Linked DNA regions of Homo sapiens: region 2 is linked to region 1. Evidence: fine-mapped expression QTL. A gene starts in region 1. The other region holds a variant in brackets. All regions are shown on one strand. Distances are between the middles of the regions.

Evidence for each region. PIP is the estimated chance that this variant, and not a neighbour inherited with it, causes the effect.
Region 2: its variant is fine-mapped to the expression of GIMAP5 in whole blood (TOPMed, PIP above 0.99).

The regions. Positions count from the first base shown.
Region 1 is chr7:150,731,650-150,741,373 of GRCh38, reverse strand. It overlaps GIMAP5 (GTPase, IMAP family member 5), which reads right to left and starts at 3,956. Exons shown (of 3, transcript NM_018384.5): 1 at 3,666-3,956; 2 at 447-495. The coding sequence starts at 489. It overlaps GIMAP1-GIMAP5 (GIMAP1-GIMAP5 readthrough), which reads right to left. Exons shown (of 5, transcript NM_001303630.2): 3 at 3,666-3,869; 4 at 447-495. RefSeq lists enhancers at 3,880-3,959, 4,835-5,821, 7,855-7,994.
Region 2 is chr7:150,577,372-150,587,095 of GRCh38, reverse strand. No RefSeq gene overlaps it. Among named protein-coding and RNA genes, the nearest start is that of GIMAP4, 15 kb to the right of the region's middle. RefSeq lists an enhancer at 391-570. The variant C/G (reference allele first, on the strand shown) is at 5,335.

The DNA of each region.
Region 1 (9,724 bases):
CGAAGTGCATTTTAGGCTCTTAAAAATCTATTATTTTATTTCTCCCACTCTGGGTTGGTTCTTCGTTTTCTTAAGTTATTCTGTGGTGTTTTGTAGCAAGCACAATGACTAAATCCCTATGGGGACCTTTTCTTTTTGAGCTGTCAGCAGACAAAGAAAGAGAAAACATATTCACCATTTGCTTCCAGACCCTTCAACCTATGACTTGGTTTCCTTTCCACATTTCCCACATACCTGATGCAGGGAGAGCATCACACTATGGTGTGTGTGTGTGTCTGTGTGTGTGTGTGATGGTTTGATAACACACACGTGATGATAGTTGCCTTTATCTTCTTCATTTAAAATGAATGGGTTTCTGCCACTGTGTTTTAGATGGGGGTAGATGGGGAGAGAATTGTGATTCTCCCAAGTGTCTGGGGCTCTTGAGAACTTCAAGACTTTCTTACCTTCAGCCATAGTTCCATATTTGCCCCTCTGGAATCCTCCCATTCTCTCCTGGAATAAAAACAGGAAAAGGATAAAAAGCAGATGTACGTTTGGGAGCTGGTAGAGCCTGAGGGCACCTCAATTCAGACATCTAAGAATAATCATTCTCAAATGAGCCATTTCCATCCCTAATTTTCTAACTCATACTTTACTTTGAAACATCTGTAAATAACTTTAAACAAAGCAGGTGATGTTAGATGTTAGGTTATGCTAAAATAGTGCACGATTACTTCCCTCCCCTCAACTTACAGAAAATCAGGAAATATTTTGAAGCAAATCAGTTGATTATCTCCCCCAACCAGAAAGGCATGAAATGGAGAAAGCATTCTTCTATGGAACAAAGAGTAGGCATTAAAAAAATTGAAATTAAAGTAACAAACTTACCAGAATAGAGAAAAAAAAATTGCCTTGCTGTAAATAAGATTGGTTTATTTGAAGTAGTGGAAACTTCCAGTCCCAGAAAGTCTTTGTGTCAAATGGACATTCCAGCGGCGGAGAGGAAATTACAAGGTACTGTCCAGTGGGAGGATGGAAGTGGGGATCAGGGACACGAAGAACTGACGTGAGAGGAAATGGTATAGGGGGACCGGTATGACCGCTTTCCCACCCTGACGGTTGGTGGAGAGGAGGTAGTGAGGTGATTGAAGAGAAAGAATCAACTTCAGGCCGAATTCAAGAACAACTCATTGCCTGCTCCGGGTTTCCAGCATTGTGCAACAGTATTGGGGATGTACATTTTCCACGTGACTGGTTATTGCCAAATATGACTCCCAGGGAGTTGAGTTAACTCCTATTTGCACCACCCATTTATAAGAAGTCCCCAAATCTTCACAGGCACTTAGTAATATTACACTTTTAATTTCCTGTCATCCTTATGGGCATAAATAAGGATGTCTTAATTGGCTTAAACTTACATTTTACTGATTATCATTAAATTAAAAACAGTTTTCATGGTTTATTTGCTATTTTGGTAATTTATAAACTTCAATTTTTAATAACTTCTGTGATTTCTATCTTTTCCACATTTTTCTATTCATTCAGTGGATTTTCTTGGCCTTCTTTAGGTCAAGAAATCTATTTTTATATTATCAGAATGTATTAAGACAGCTTCCTGCCTCCCTCCCTTTCCCTTCTTTCTTTTCTTCCTCCTTTCCTCTTTACCCTCCCCTCTCTCCTTTCTTTCTTTTTCTTAAGCCCAGAGAAGAACATTTTCCTCTCTCCCACACCCTGTTCTCGTCTCTGGTAAATTATGCTTCTGGCTTTTGCTAAAATAGCACCAGTTCCCTGACATCCTCTCTACTTTAGATGACGTTTTCTGAGGTTTGGAATCAACATAATGATGTGGTAAGGGTCAAGATGACAGTGGTAATGATATTGATTATGAACATCATAATTGTAATAAGCCTCTGTGAATACATTTATAATTTTCAAAGTTATTTCATCCTTCTTATTTTAATTGCTCTCTCAAATTCCCTGTGATGTGATCAAAACTGATCTTAAAATTTCTATTAAAATGCAAGGAAACTGAGCATTAAATGACCTGCCAAAGGTCACATATTTACAATGGAGCTAGCATCAGGAAATGGCTCCTTTTGCTGTGTATTGTCCTTGATTCCACAGGTGGAAAAAGAGACTTTTCCAAAAAAGTCAACAAACCTCTTGGAACATGTGTACAATGCTGCCACTCCCTGGTCAGGAGACAAATTAATTGGACAGCTAGAAGCCTACCCTAAAACCAACACACAGAATTTTATTGCAAAATCTTGAGTGCATTTCTTATAAAAGGTTATTCAAAAATAAAATTGCTGGTGGCAGGAGTTTCTCTGAATTGAGGTCTTTTCTTTTAAAACAGCCAATTGCCTGTCACAAAAGCCAGTCAAACTATGTTATGTTAGCCAATGACCAGCAACAATAGCTCTCCCAATCCAAGCTTTCTGAGTGGATCAGGCTGCATTGAGGAATACATTTTTTGGCAGATATTCACAAATAACAAAGTGTTCACAGGTGAGTCAGAAAGGATACTGATGGCAATGCTAAAATGAGTCATGGAGAAGATTATAAAAGAACTGAATAGAGCGTGGTGGACACACCGTAGGCTTGAAGGAATGTGATACGTGTTGGTCTACAGGGCAGACAAAAGTGGAGGAATTGAGAATGAAGACAGGCGTCTTCTCCAAAGGAAAAATTTTACTAATCGTCCCACAAAAGAGACCAAAGTTCATGAGAGATTGGAAGGCAGTGTGCAAGCAAGACAGTAGCAGCCTCTGGCAAGCTGGTGGGAGGGTCTGGCTCAGGGAAAAGGGTGAAGCAAATGAACAAAATGCACATTCCGATTTGAAAATTGCATGAACCTGATTTTACCATGAGAAGAGCTTATTTTAGCAAATTACAAGAAAGCAGCCTCTTCCATACTATTTTAGAAAAGATCAAACCACTTCTTGTCTTCCTTGTTCATAAGTATCTCCTTCACCCATCTGCCCCAGCCCATGTATTTCCAGGTATTGGAATCATGTGTTTTGCGGTTTGGTGTGCGTCCGGCAGGGTGTCATAGGAAAAATGTGGGGCATCTGGGGGAGCATGGGGTAGTTTTCAGAAGTTGAAAGTCACAAGACAAGGTCCACTCAGGGGTCTTGTTTGGAACATGAGGCTCCTGGGGTGGGAAAATATCCCACATTTGCCCTGGGGAGCCCTAAGAATCCATCCTCAGCTCCCAGGCTTGTCTGAGACATGGTACGTGTCTGGCTGGTCTGGGACAGGAGAAATTAGGAGGGTAAAATTGAGAAGAATGCCCCGGCATGCTAGGGGAGATGGGGGAAAGCCTATCACCCTCTGGGAGCTTCAGTTCTCCCATCTGTCCCACTGATGAGAGGATCAGTTCAGCCTTACTCCCTGAGAGTTTCATGGAGATCGACTTGGCTAAGTAATGGGCAATGGGGCAGCAAAGCCCGCTGTCCTGGGACTGGGCTGTGAGTGCAGGCACAGATTCTTCAGGCTGTGCTCCACCAGCTGTGCACCTGCTGATGCCCGCAACACTCATCACCATTGCCCCGTTTTACTGACCAGCGAACCCAGAAGTGAGGGGATCTGTGCAAGGTCATGTCAGAAATGAACAGCTGTGACCAAACTGTGATCCTTTCAATTCCCAAAGTCTCTGTGAGCATAAACCCAGTTCTCCTTACCAGAAACGGTTGTTGTGCCCTGTCCTCCAGGGTGGCAGTCACTGAGGCTCTGGCCGCTGGTCCTCTCTCAGGAAGGTGAAGTGGCAGCAGAGAGAGTCCTGCTCTGCGTCTGTGTGCGGGGATGCTGTTCACAGGGCTGAGGGAGGTTGAGCAGACGCAGTTAAGGAGGAGCCATGTGCTGGGGCTGAAAGCTCCATGACTCAGCTGCACAAAAAGAAAAGTAGAGATTATGGAGTGTGTCCCCCACACCTCTGCGGACTAGGACACCCTGGTGTTGGCTGGAAACTGATTGGGAACAAGACCCTGAAAACCAGCCGAATGCAGCGATGTGCTGCTTCCTTAACGGGTCACTTCCTGTCATGAGCCTGCCCTGGGACAGTGTGCCCCATCCCATTTCCTTTTTTTTTTTTTTTTGACTGTTTCAAGCAAGCAGTATTTGGAAGAAGGAGATATGAAGGGAATTACAGACTCTCCCACTTCCAAGTTCAGAAAAGGTCCCTAGTGACTGGAAAGTTCTGGGCAGCAGCTGCTGCCCTCAGCACCCATCACCGGGGCACCTTCTCCTCCCAGCACTCTTGGGCCCCTTCTCACAGGCTCTGCTTCTGGAAAGTTTCTGCTAACCAGGATCAGAAAGGCACTCTGGTCCAAAGAGGACCAGAACAAGCCCTTGCAGGGTTTGACTCTGGGCTCGTGACTGACCCTGGTAAGCTGTCTGGCACGTGATGGAGCCCACCCTGTGGGGACATTGTGGAGTCTACGTGTCAGTTTATCTGGTAAGGGTTGAAAGCAGGGTGATAGAACCTCTATTTTTGAATTGATTGCCATTTAAGGCTAGAGCAGTGGACATAAACCTGATTGCCATTTAAGGTTAGGGCAGTGGACATAAACCTGATTGCCATTTAAGGTTAGGGCAGTGGACATAAGGCAATTATGCGATGGAGAACACAGTGGGACTTAGGCGGAGGGCCGTCATGGCCCAGAGAATCCCCATATCCTTTTCTGTTGACATTTGAAGTGGGGCTTACAGTCATATGGTAACAATTGTCTAAGACTTGATGGGAAAACAATTTTAAACAATCTCCTGCTAGCCCAGAAAACCTCTCCACAGAGGCAGAAGAGAAAGAAAACAATTTTATTATTGAATGTCCATTGAACCAGAATGTGATCTGGATCCCAGACAATCCAGGAAGAGATTGCAAAGACGGAGAGGGATGCCACCTGGTTATACAGCCAGGCAGGTGCCACCTATTACACACGTGTTCTCAAGTTAAACCATAACTAATCCTCAAGTAAGAGGACTTGACAGCACCCTTTGACATGCATAGTTCATCCTAAATTCACTCAGTAATCATCTGTGTTGGCTAATTGTCTTTCCAGAGGAAAAGTAAACTTCTCACATCCTCTATGGCAAGAGGAAGATTTGCAACTCAGAAAGGTGCTGGCAGATGTCAGGCTCCTACCTAAGTTAGGCTCCTAAATTAGGCCCCTATTTTCACACAGAGACTGGGAGGTGGGGACGCTACCTTCCTTGATGTTTGCATTTCAAAGGGATGGCTTCCAGATGCTCTACAGACAGCCCTGGGCTGTCAAACAGCTTTTAAAAAGATTTGCATTACAAAGGGTAGAGAAAGATTTCACACTTACAAGGTTTCTAAAGAAAATGCTCTAAGAAGGGAGGGGTAATTCTTTTCCACTTTGTTTTTTCCCCAGAAAAGAGAATTAATGTTTTCTCCTTATTTTTGATTTTTATTCGCCCTTACATTTTTAAATTCTTCAAGGACTTTCAACCTAGTCAGCACTCATAATTTATGTGAATTGAGCAGAGCAGGGCAGAAAGTGGGCTGTAATCTGACCAGGATTTCACCCTTGCTAGATAGGGACCAGGTACTCCCCCAGCACCTGGCTGGAATCTTTCAAAAACTTGACCAACAGAGTTCACATCAAAATCTTATAAACAGTGAGGGGCACCGAAGCTAACCATTCCCATCAATGTAGCAAATTCACTTAATTCTGGCAACATCTTCAAACTCCTTCTCTTCTTTCCTTTTGGTTTGAACTATTTGCAAACATTATTTTTATCCACTGAACTGGGTGCTCTGGCACCCCAGCTAAGGACTGATTTTCTGCTTTGAGATCTGTTCTCTAAGTCTTATCTCTTCTCTAGCAGTTCCCAGGCTCCTCTTATGGCTCAAAGAGACCCCAGGGAGTCAATGATGAAATGTGTTAACTGGTCTCTATCAGTTTTCTGGGTGAGATCGTGGGCTTTTTAGAGGCCAGGGACTGTCTTTAGGTCAGGATCTTGCTAGAACTTAGCCCTAGAAAGTGCTCAAAAATACTTACTGAGTAAATCAGTAAAACATACAACTTAAATGCTCTAACTCTTCCCTCATGTCCCCTTTTGTAGTTACATTTAGTGCTAGAAGAATAATCTTAGGTAGCTACTTTCAGAAAGTAGGGTTGTAGAAATTCGTATATATCCAGATATGAAAGGATTTCCAAAACTAGACTCTTTGTGCCTTTTTCCACACCCTCTCTATTCCTCTGTTCAGATTTGCAAAACAAACAAACCCCCAGGAAACCTGGGACACCGAGGAAGTGGCCATTTTCCCTACCCTTCTGTTTGACACCAAATTCAATCCCTTTTCAGCCTGGACAGAGACAGTTCTCTACCAAACCTGACATAGTACAAAATATGATGAATCATTACTGAAAGCATGTCTCTATCCATCCCCAGCCACCTCTGCTATCCCTGCTTTCTCTCTGTGATGCTCCCTGGTGCACAGAACTGAGCACGCTGAGTTGCAACTCATGTGCTCTAGCTATGTGATGAAGTTTCTGGAGTTCTGAGTGCAGTAGCCATCTCAGAGTAGATACCTGTAGGCTGCCCTGAGAATCAGCTTTATTAAGCTGAGGAGATGCCAAAGCTCCATCTCGGAGACATTTTGGGCAGCCACCTTCCCTACCAACTTGGAGTGATTCAAGGACCCCTGGGTTCATGCCTTGGACCTTCTGTTTGAAATGGGAGACAGACAATTATTGCCTTCTGATGAAGGAGGAAGGGAGAATGAGGGAAAGAGGAGGCATGGCATTTACCACTTTCTCCTGAGCCACTGGGCTGAGGTCCTAGGTGACCAACCGCCAACTTGCCCTGAATTTGACTGGATTTAGTACTACAAGGCCCACGTCCTGGGAAACCCCTTAGTCCCAGTCAAAGTGAGCCTGTTGGTCACCACAAGGTCTCCTAACTCTTAGTCATGCTTGCTGTCTTTCACCATCTGGCCTCTGTCTCTTCATCCATCATCTCACCCTATTCCATGAAGGTCTCCTATGAACATGACTAGTGGGAAATGTGGAAATGAAACCCCAAGTCAATGTTGGGAGGCCCTGAAGCCAAATGCTGAAGTGTGATTTCTCTTCCTTGTCGGTAGTCACTCTAAAAAAAGTTCTTTCTTGGAACTTTTTTTTAGAACATTGTGTTCTTACGAAAATCAAAGAGCAGGTAAAAGATGCTGAAAAAAAGTATTAAAATGCAGGCATTTCTATATTATCAACATTATTATTTCCTTTGTGTCTGGACAAGGTCATGGCTACTCTTTTCAGGGCTGAGAGGGTCCAGGTCAGGGGCGCCTCTAATTGGAGGTGAGGAAAGGAGCCTCCTGGATCAGGGTGCTCTACAGAGACCACAGCTGCTGAAGAGGCTTCACGGTGGGGGCGGAGATCATCTAGGGGTGAATCCAGGAGGTAGAGTTGAGGATTCAGAAACATCCAGGTCAATAAAAGGGGCCACTATTTGAGCCCACAGTTGACATACAACATGGAGGAAGGATTAACGATGCCATGAAGTACACTCTAAGTATCTAAATATTGCATCTTTTGAAGCAAATTTACCCTATTCTCCTGAGCCTTTGCACCACACCAGACCTAATGGGTGGTAAGTCCAGACAGCACCCATGGGAAGCAGACAAAAAGCCACCCTCGTAAGGAATCTGAAATCTTATTAGAGAGACAAGACTTATGCAAATGAAAGACAATGAGTAAGGGTCCCAAATGAATGTTTTGGACAAGTGTATTTCATACACCCCATTGTAGAGCATCAAAACATGAAATAGAGTAGAATAGAAACTATCAAAATTAGTCACACAAAATATGAGTGTATGTAAGCTCTGGGAAGCAGTATAAAACTGAGGGTCATGGTAAAAAATACATGATAGCACAGTTTTAGACAATGTATTAAGCAGGATTTTGGGAAGAAAAGAGGTCAAAACGGACCAACCCCAAGGAGAAAGCCCTGAGGTGTGGAGTAGAACTTGGACATGTGATCAAGGTTGACTGGAGGTGGAGAAGGGGCCCTTTGAAGCGGTTATTTTAAAGGAAGCAGAGAGTATGTAGGTGTCAGGGCAGGACAGTGCCTAGAGCAGGTTTAAGAGCTTGTTGTCATGACCTCTGGAGTTGTCTGGGTAGCTGATGTCTAGTTGTCTAATTCCATAGCATTGCATTTAGAGTAGAACCTTCACCCATTTAGTTAGCTCAAAAGGCCAAGAGGGAGCAGCAGGACTGAATGCATGCCTTGACGCTCTCCTCTAGTTGTTTATTAGATGAGTTAGATGAGGTCCAGATGGGATGATAAGGTCCCTGAAGATTTCCTGGCTGGCACCATGGAGGACAGCTCCTGTTGCATCTGGAGTGGGGTGGACCCTCCTGAAAGCCTAATGAGACCCTCCTCTACCCTGACATTATCACCTGCAACTGAATGTCTCCTGGTGAGCATCTTGGGATCCACAAGCTGATATCTTCCTGTCACGAATAATGTTTCTGAGCTTGCTGAGGTGTACCCTCACCAGGCTGATTTCCTTTTGAGTCATTACATTGGAAATTCTCGGCCCTTGAGCTGTCTATCAATTATAGGTTTGTTGAGATATTTTCCCCCTCACCCTTCAGAGGGGAGACAAAGAGCCCCCCAAAACCCCAAGGTGGCTCGAGGCCTGAGATCAGTTGCATCTGAGGTTGAGAGCAGCCTCTTCTGTTTACACACTATGTTGTGACAAATGTTACCATGTGGACATCGACATGAAAAAGTTGGGAAGCTCTACTTTTGATGAAAAAAATATAATATACAAAGTCCTGCTGTCTGGGTCTTGCTTTCCTTCTGTCTGAAATTACTATTGACATTTGACATCATGGGGTATCAGAGTTACCAACAGGCACATCTGTAGGACTGGCCCAGGCTTCTTGGGGTGCACATTGTCTTTTAACATATCCCACCCCAAGATCTCTGGTTCCTCCTCTCCTGAAGCTATCAGACCTCCTCTCCTGAAGCTATCAGGAGATTCTGTCAGATTCTGCCCCAAGCAGTGCTCCCAAGCTGCCCCACCGTCTCTGTCAAGGCCAGGTTTTCCCAGATCCAGGACATGGGGTTCCTGGCCTGGGGATGCTTCTGTATCCTGGGAGCCTAAGCAAGGACCACAGTGGCTGCCTATTTGCTTTTTCAGAGAAGGGAAAACACAGCAAGAGCAATGATAAAAAGTGGAGGCAAAGCTGAATGTGTGAAGGCAGTTGATTTGCACAAGAAGTGTTAGAAACAGTTCAGTGACAACATTAGAAGTCATACCTCCTGTGGCTTTTCTATGAAAACTACAGCCTGTGCTGCCATAAGCCTCATGGAGACTTGCATGTACACGTCTGCCATTTGAGTTTAACCCAGTGAATAACTGAGTTGTGTGGAAGGGAAAGGAAAAAGGCACAGGCACAGAAGGTGAGAGCTAGAAGAATCTTGGGGATCATGTAAACTAGTCCTTTCCTCCCCCATATTACAGATAAGGAGACTGCAGTCTAGAGAAACCGTTTTCAGAAGACCACATTAGTTAATTTTAGTATATGGCGTGAGATATAAATCAAGATTTTTTTTGCAAATATATGTCCAGTTTTTCATTCCATCAACTTATCTTGCAGGGAGTATCCTTTTTTATTAAATTACTTTGGTACCCTTTCAAAAATTAATTGATCATATATATATGTCTATTTCTGAACTGTATTCTGTTCCATTGATCTTTATGTCTGAT
Region 2 (9,724 bases), 150 kb after region 1:
ATTGGTGACTGTAGAGTGGAAAGAGAAAGCAAAAATGAAGGTCATGTCTGGTCACCACAGGGCAAAGGGGAAAGGACAGTCTGTTTCTTGTTTTTGGAAAGTTAAAACAATAGTAGGAAGTGCTCCAGTGGGTGTCAGGCTCTCTAACATCCTGGAATTGATCAGTCATCTGCATTCCTGAGAAGATGACAATTTATTAAGCAACTCCAGAGTTGTTTCCTCCTGGGTGTAGAGGGATAAACAGTTTCTCTTTCCAAGCCAGAGGGAGGAGAGTGAGCTTGGTATAGAAATGCCCAGTGCTGTCTTTGGTACCTTCCCCTGTAACTCAAAATCTCTAGGAAAGCTGCTGAAGCTTACATAATGCTGATCACTATTATGATGGTGGAAACTAGGCAGAAAACTGAACTTCAAGTGAATGAACTGCAAGTGCATGAAATGGGGTAAGACAGAGGACAGTGGCACACGCAGGAGGAAGTAGGGGAAGGATGAGGAAGTGAGTGCAGAAAGCTCCCTGCAGGAGGGAGTTTGGATTCTGTGTGCTGTGGAAATGCAGCTTGAGCCAAGTTTTACCATTCTCCAAGGGCAAGGGGGATGTACCACTGCCAAATGGGTGAAAAATATTTAACGAGTGCTTCACACACTCCAGGATATTGGAATCCAATGGTGAATAAGGAAGTGTTCTTCATCAGCCATAACTGTAGGAGACAGATAGCAAGTAGTCAAAATACAAGATCAAAACTACTTTGTCCTGGGTATACCCAGCATCAATGAGCATAAGTGTCTTGAATGGGCTAGGAAACATTTCCCACAAAAAGGTCAGATAGATGATGAATGCTGCTCTATGAATGCTTCAGCAGTGCCAAATCATCTTGTGGCTGACTGCCATGGTTATTACTTGAGACTGTCACTATGACAGTTACTACTGTTACTACTTGAGACCGTCATTACAAGACTGAATGAAGGGACGAACATAGAAATGAAAACTTAAGACAAAAGAAACCATTTTAAAGGAAAGGGAACTGGGGAAGAAGAAAAGGGCTCCCTGCTTCTAGTGAGCAAAGGCCGCCCCTGAGCTTCTACCACGCTTCGTATTTATTGGGTAGAATGACCAGGGAGCAGAAGGTAATGATTGGTCAGCTGCTTAATTGAACACAGGTTCACATTATTACTAACAGGCTTCAGATGTACCTAATCACAACAAACATTGCACTTGGCCGTCACTGCCCTCAGTATCCCTTCTGGGTGGAAGACACAGTTTGTCGGTCTGCCAACATTCTGCATTTGAGAAACAGTTTGCTGCCTACTCATATAGCCTCCAGTGGTATGCTGAATTGACCACGACCCTCAATCTTTTGTCCTCCAACATTTCTCCCTTTTTGTTTTTGAATTAATTGAATAAGGCAATTGCAAAATGTGCAGCCTTCAATTGCTGGTTGGTGGTTCGTTCGTCTTCACATTCAGATTCAACTGGCTCATGGCTCACACTGGGGGAACCAGGCCTGTGGCTGGGATCCATGGTTCCCTCCAATCTCCTGTTCCATGGTTGTACACACCTTGAGGGCACCCACATGGTTTGTTCATTTGCTGTGAAAACACAAGCATACCCTCGCCCCCACGTTAGTAAATCTAGCAAAGCAGAAGCAAAAAGTTTTTGTGGCTGTAGCCGGGAGGCATGCCGTTGCTGAAGCGTCTGCTCTGCAACCTGTAACTCAGCTTCTGTCTCTTTGGTTAATTACCGCAGGGTAAAACTTTCCATTGATAATGAGAGGCTGGCTCTTTCTGATTAACAGAAGGCACACAGAGAGCAAATCGAGGCTTATCCTTCTCCAGTCTCTCATTCCATCACCACCCAAAGAGAGCAGCCCAGGGAGCAGTGTGTGAGGGTGAACATTAGAAACATGAAAAGGAGCAGCATGAGAGTGAACAGCTTGTTGAAGTCCCAGAAACAAGTGAAACGGCCCTGGTTTGAATGCCTCTGACATATCTCCCCCTTTACAAGAGGACCCTTAATCCTAAGGGTTGCAGAGGGATGAAGATCTGTCTTCTGTAACTTCTTCAGGCTGAATAGGGGTGATGATATTCCTGCCTAACTATTAGGGTCTCTGTTTCTGCTTCAGAAGATAGTACAGGTGTCTCTACTACTGAAAAGGGCAGTACAGGCCAATTCTCATCCTCCCTCTCCTGCCCTCCACCCCCGGTGGGTTCAACGTGCAGGGCAAAAGACTCCTTTAAACCTTGAGACACAAAACACGAACCGCCCATCCAGTCTGAGACATGACAGAATCTCAGCACTCTGTTGAACACTTTGAGCTGTTCCTACTCCCACTAGGGATGTAGAAGATAGTTTTAGGGACCGAGATAGGGGCCAATTGTTTTTAGATATTACTGACACACTGACACATCAGCTCCTATATCCATAAGCCCATAAAACTTCTTTCCTTTGATTTGCACTGTATAGGTGGGTCTATTAGATGCCACGGGTTGTGATAGGTAAGTCTCTCTCCCAGTTGCACTTCCAAATCCCTGACCTCCTCACTTCTTCTTATGTAGAGAGGGGTACAATTTATAGGGAATAAGCAACAGTTGAGCAATATATTCTCCTGGTTCAAAAACCCAAAGATCTTGTGACGTTACCACTGCTTGAATTTCTCCTTCACAATCCCAATTACCAACTCCTGGGCCTGTAAGTTAAGACAGCTTTTGCCCAAAATTAATCCCATGTATCCTGTTGGCAAAGGTCCACAAATGCCAATGGGAATCTTAGTGAGTTTGTTTCTTCCAATTAACGTAACCTGCTCTCTAACTGGGCCATCTAATCCTGCGCTTCCAGGTGTTCCTGGGGAGAGGGAATCAATATGCCTCTGGAAACCAATCCCTGAAATGAAGCTGTTCTCTGGACAGGGAATGCCCTCATTTTTTGAGGTGCCAGGGTCCAGGCCCCCTTCTCACTTCCCAAGAGGGGGCTGCCATTTTGATGAAACTTTGAGTGGCATTGATTAACTCAATGATTCCCTTTATTGCAATGAGGGCCAAGTCCTGGCATTTTTTCTGTTAAGAGGGGAACTGTGTTACAAGATCCCTTTTGCCCAGAGGTCTGGCAGTGTTCTTTTTTGAAATGTCCAATTTTTCTACACTTATAACACTTTCCCACATTAGGGCTTGACCCTTGGCTTCTTTTAGATCTGTCAGCTACCAAATTAGCCATTGTCTGAGTCAATACTGCAGAGCAATGAAGCTCAGTTCCCACATCCCGACAAGCTCCGAGAAAACCTCCCAAGTTCTCTGCACATCTCACAGGTGCCAATGCAGGTTTACAATCCCAGAAAGCCAAAGCTAAAGTTAGCCTTTCTGTAGCCACAAAGGAAGATGGTACAAGCCAATTTCCATTCTCCCTCTCCTGTTCACTACTTTTGATAGGTGCTGTAGGTGGGGCAAAAAATTCCCTAAAACCCTGAAATAACAAAAAGATAGTACGTACCGAACTCCAAACAAAAGAGCGAAGAAATAGCCAAATTCTTCCCCATGTTACCCTGATTCAAAAACTTCCCATTCTTTGTACCTCTAGGGCCCTGACCTTATGTTGCTGCAGGCAGACTTGTAACAGGGTTTCTCATTCGTCTGGTTGGTTTTAATTTTTTCTGGGCTTTGGTTTTTTCTGTTCCAGCAGACCTTCCTCATTCAAGTCCCTTTAGGACCCAACTCTCCCTATCTGTCCCAGCAAGTTTTGCTAGTCTTTATCTATCCCTATCTGTCCCTCTCAGTCCCTATAGCCCCTGTTAGTTCCTGCAAGTTCTTGCAAGTCCCTGTCTTTCCCTACCTATCTCTATTTGTCCCTATTTGTCTATTTATCTCCATTTATCCCTCCTTATCTCTATTTGTCCCTGCAGGCCTCTTCAGGTCCCTTCAGGTCTCTTTTTGTCTCTGATAGTCCCTGTTTGTCCCTGTTCAGGTGCCACTTTTGGCTGACTGCCATGGTTATTACTTGAGACTGTCACTATGACAGTTACTACTGTTACTACTTGAAACCATCATCACAAGACGGAATGAAGGGACAAACGTAGAAATGAAAGCTTAAGACAAAAGAAACTTTTATAGGAAGGGGAACTGGGGAAGAAGAATAGCACTCCTCCTTCTAGTGAGCAAAAGCAGCCCCTGAGCTTCTACTGCACTTCGTATTTATTGGGTAGAATGGCCAGAGAGCAGGAGGTAACTACTGGTCCGCTTCTTAATTGATCACAGGTTCATATGATTACTAACAAGCTTCAGATGTACCTAATCACAAGAAACATCGTGCTTGGGGTGTAACTGCCCTCAATATCCCTTCTGGGTGGAAGATGCAGTTTGTCAGTCTGCCAAAATTCTGCATTTATGAGAAACAGTTTGCTGCCTACTCATATAGCCCCAGTGGTATACGGAATTGATCACGACCCTCAGTCTTTCGACCTCCAACATCATCTGTTGTTTCTGAATCACGGAGGAGCCTAGAATGATATTTCTCATCACCTCTTACACTGTATGGTCCAAGTGAGAATAAATCAAGATGAGACATTCACATGAGATTTGGATGGTGGACAAGGAAGAAGGACCATTCTCTGGCAGCAACAGCAGAGAGACAATGAGCAGACCTACCTGCATGTCACAGCAAATGAGCGCCTCAAAACCACCCAGCTCTGTGCATCAGCAAGCTTCCAAGACCTCTGCATTCCCAGCCCTCCAAGGGGTGGGCCAGCCTCTAATTTCCTGGATTTGAAAATATATCCTACCTATACCTACATATGCTTCAATTTTCCTGATCAAATATTCTGTATAAGTGGCTGTATAAGTGGAGGAAGATGAAATCCTTTTGGGGGGCAATCAGGGCAAAATCATGTTGGGTTCCAAAAATGGAACAGAGCATGGTCCAGTAATCCTGGGTCATGAAACATGAAAATGAGACTGCTTACAAGGGATTTGTGTCAAATATCTAGCTAGAATTCTTACTTGACAAGTGTAAATGATTTTAAAACATCTATACCATGAATTCATATTTTGTCCTGAATTTACAACGCCTCTCATAAATTTGGAAATATTTTAAAACAAAACATTCCCCAGGGTATATAAGTACTAAAAACTCTTAACCTTTCACAATGTGGTTTTGTTGTTGAAGCTGTGCTCACAATCCATCTCTTCAGAGCCCTGACAGTGAGGCAGCCAGAAAGGACCCATGCAGGGGAATTCCTTGCTGTTCTCTTTTGCCTTGTCCTCTCAGTGGCTGGGGACAAGGCAAGTAGCTACCAGCTGAGTTGATAGTGGACTCAAAGTGTTTCATTCAAAATGGGTGCCTCAGTGGAAGAC[C/G]TTTCATGTTGGCAAACATTTAAATATCCAGTCTTTTCCCCAATTTTCCCACAAAAGCTTTCATAATTGAAATAATATTTTCTTTTACCACCTCTCCAAATAAAAATGTGGACAAACATAAACAGAGAGAAATTTTATAGCTTTACAGACTTACGCTAGTAAAGAAGAGAGTTCTAAAATCAAATATCTGAGCTTTCCATCTTAAGAAGAGGAAAAGCAGAGCAGTGATACTACTGTAACCCAGAACCTTACTTGTTTAACTGGGAAACATTGGAGGCATTGCCAAGAATAAGGCAAGCATGCTTGTCATCTCCACTACTGCTCAACATTATAATGGAGGTATTGGCCAATGCAATCAAACAAGATAAATCAATTAGGTGCACAAGAATAAGTAAAGAAAGGCAAACTGTGGAACATCCATATGGTAAAATACTACTCAGAAAAAAAAGAACAGGCAACTCAGATGACTCTCGAAAGCATTATGCTGAGACAAACAAACCCAATCTCAAAAGGGACTTCTTTTACTCATCTCTAGATTCTCAGTGTCTGCTCTAGAACCAACCATGAGATACAAGGAATCAATGAGTGGTAATGAGTGCGTGAGTAGGTATGAAGCCTCAAAACTCTTGAGAGAAGGAAACATGTCTCCCTCTCCTCTTGTATTAATCACAATGCATAGTATTTGCCAAGGACCTTCTGTCTGCCTTCTCTCCTGGGAGGCAAACAGGCAACACTCTTCTTAGAGTTTTTCACTTGGGCTTCTCATCTGCTTGCTGCTTCTTAAGTCAGAACCTTTTTCTTTCCCTCATCTGCAGCATTAACCTGAATGCAAGGGGAAGAATAATTGAGTGTGTGTTACACTGATAACAACCACTGCAGTTAGAGATTTTTTCCTATTAAACCTGAATGTACTTCCTCTTGGGAGGTATGTGTGGCTTTTTGTTCAAATATTTGCTCACAGACAGTAGTAATACAATAGGTGAGAGCAGAAGCTGTCTTACTCTGAGTGATTATTTCTAAAGGAATCGCACATTTCATTGTGTAGTGCTTCTCTTATATTTAAGCCTTTGCTAACTTTTGTTAAATGTACAGTCTAAACTTATTTGTGCTTTGGGGAAATAAGGAAGATATGTATATCCTGGGGTGGAGCCAAGATGGCCAAATAGGAACAGCTTGGGTCTACAGCTCCCAGCGTGAGCGACACAGAAAATGGGTGATTTCTGCATTTCCATCTGAGGTACCAGGTTCATCTCACTAGGGAGTGCCAGACAGTGGGTGCAGGACAGTGGGTGCAGCGCACTGTGTGTGAGCCAAAGTAGGGCAAGGCATTGCCTCACTCAGGAAGTGCAAGGGGTCAGGGAGTTCCCTTTCCTAGTCAAAGAAAGGGGTGACAGACAGCACCTGGAAAACCGGGTCACTTCAACCTTAATACTGTGCTTTTCCAACGGGCTTAAAAAACGGCACATCAGGAGATTATACCCTGCACCTGGCTTGGAGGGTCCTATGCCCACGGAGTCTTTCTGATTGCTAGCACAGCTGTCTGAGATCAAACTGCAAGGTGGCAGCAAGGCTGGGGGAGGGGTGCCTGCCATTGCCAAGGCTTCAGTAGGTAAACAAAACAGCCAGGAAGCTCAAACTGGGTGGAGCCCACCACAGCTCTAGGAGGCCTGCCTGCCTCTGTAGGCTCCACCTCTGGGGGCAGGGCACAGACAAATAAAAAGACAGCAGTAACCTCTGCAGACTTAAATGTCCCTGTCTGACAGCTTTGAAGAGAGTAGTGGTTCTCCCAGCACGCAGCTTGAGATCTGAGAATGGGCAGACTGCCTCCTCAAGTGGGTCCATGACCCCCGAGCAGCCTAACTGGGAGGCACCCAACAGTAGGCGCAGTCTGACACCTCACACGGCTGGGTACTCCTCTGAGACAAAACTTCCAGAGGAACGATCAGGCAGCAGCATTTGCGGTTCACCAATATCCACTGTTCTGCAGCCACCGCTGCTGATACCCAGGCAAACAGGGTCTGGAGTGGACCTAGCAAACTCCAACAGACCTGCAGCTGAGGGTCCTGTCTGTTAGAAGGAAAACTAACAAACAGAAAGGACATCCACACCAAAAACCCATCTGTACGTCACCATCATCAAAGACCAAAAGTAGATAAAACCACAAAGATGAGGAAAAAACAGAGCAGAAAAACTGGAAACTCTAAAAAGCAGAGCACCTCTCCTCCTCCAAAGGAATGCAGCCCTCACCAGCAATGGAACAAAGCTGGACAGAGAATGACTTTGACGAGTTGAGAGAAGAAGGCTTCAGATGATCGAACTACTCTGAGCTACAGGAGGAAATTCAAACCAATGGCAAAGAAGTTAAAAACTTTGAAAAAAAATTAGATGAATGGATAACTAGAATAACCAGTGCAGAGAAGTCCTTAAAGGACCTGATGGAGCTGAAAGCCAAGGCTCCAGAACTAAGTGAAGAATGCAGAAGCCTCAGGAGCTGATGCAATCAACTGGAAGAAAGGGTATCAGTGATGGAAGACAAAATGAATGAAATGAAGCAGGAAGGGATGTTTAGAGAAAAAAGAATAAAAAGAAATGAACAAAGCCTCCAAGAAATATGGGACTGTGTGAAAAGACCAAATCTACGTCTGATTGGTATACCTGAAAGTGACGGGGAGAAGGGAACCAAGTTGGAAAACACTCTGCAGGATATTATCCAGGAGAACTTCCCCAATCTAGCAAGGCAGGCCAACATTCAGATTCAGGAAATACAGAGAATGCCACAAAGATACTCCTCAAGAAGAGCAACTCCAAGACACATAATTGTCAGATTCAACAAAGTTGAAAGGAAGGAAAAAATGTTAAGGGCAGCCAGAAAGAAACGTCGGGTTACCCTCAAAGGGAAGCCCATCAGACTAACAGTTGATCTCTCGGCAGAAATTCTACAAGCCAGAAGAGAGTGGGGGCCAATATTCAACATTCTTAAAGAAAAGAATTTTCAACCCAGAAGTTCATATCCAGCCAAACTAAGCTTCATAAGTGAAGGAGAAATAAAATCCTTTACAGACAAGCAAATGCTGAGAGATGTTGTCACCACCAGGCCTGCCCTAAAAGAGCTCCTGAAGGAAGCACTAAACACGGAAAGGAACAACCAGTACAAGCCACTGCAAAAACATGCCAAAATGTAAAGACCATCAAGGCTAGGAAGAAACTGCATCAACTAATGAGCAAAATAACCAGCTAACATCATAATGACGGGACCAAATTCACACATAACAATATTAACCTTAAATGTAAATGGGCTAAATGCTCCAATTAAAGGACACAGACTGGCAAATTGGATATAGGGTCAAGACCCATCAGTGTGCTGTATTCAGGAAACCCATCTCACGTGCAGAGACACACATAGGCTCCAAATAAAGGGATGGAGGAAGATCTACCAAGCAAATGGAAAACAAAAAAAGGCAGGGTTTGCAATCCTAGTCTCTGATAAAACAGACTTTAAACCAACAAAGATCAAAAGAGACAAAGAAGGTCATTACATAATGGTAAAGGGATCAATTCAACAAGAAGAGCTAATTATCCTAAATATATATGCACCCAATACAGGAGCACCCAGATTCATAAAGCAAGTCCTTAGTGACCGACAAAGAGACTTAGACTCCCACACAATAATAATGGGAGACTTTAACACCCCACTGTCAACATTAGACAGATCAACGAGACAGAAAGTTAACAAGGATATCCAGGAATTGAACTCAACTCTGCACTAAGTGGACATAATAGACATCTACAGAACTCTCCACCCCAAATCAACAGACTATACATTCTTTTCAGCACCACACCACACCTATTCCAAAATTGACCACATAGTTGGAAGTAAAGCTCTCCTCAGCAAATGTAAAAGAACAGAAATTATAACAAACTGTCTCTCAGACCACAGTACAATCAAACTAGAACTCAGGATTAAGAAACTCACTCAAAACTGCTCAAATACATGGAAACTGAACAACCTGCTCCTGAATGACCACTGGGTACATAACAAAATGAAGGCAGAAATAAAGATGTTCTTTGAAACCAATGAGAACAAAGACACAACATACCAGAATCTCTGGGACACATTCAAAGCAGTGTGTAGGGGGACATTTATAGCACTAAATGCCCACAAGAGAAAGGAGGAAAGATCTAAAATTGACACCCTAACATCACAATTAAAAGAACTAGAGAAGCAAGAGCAAACACATTCAAAAGCTAGCAAAAGGCAAGAAATAACTGAGATCAGAGGAGAAGTGAAGGAAATAGAGACAGAAAACACCCTTCAAAAAAATCAATGAATCCAGGAGCTGGTTTTTTTGAAAAGATCAACAAAATTGATAGACCGCTAGCAAGTCTAATA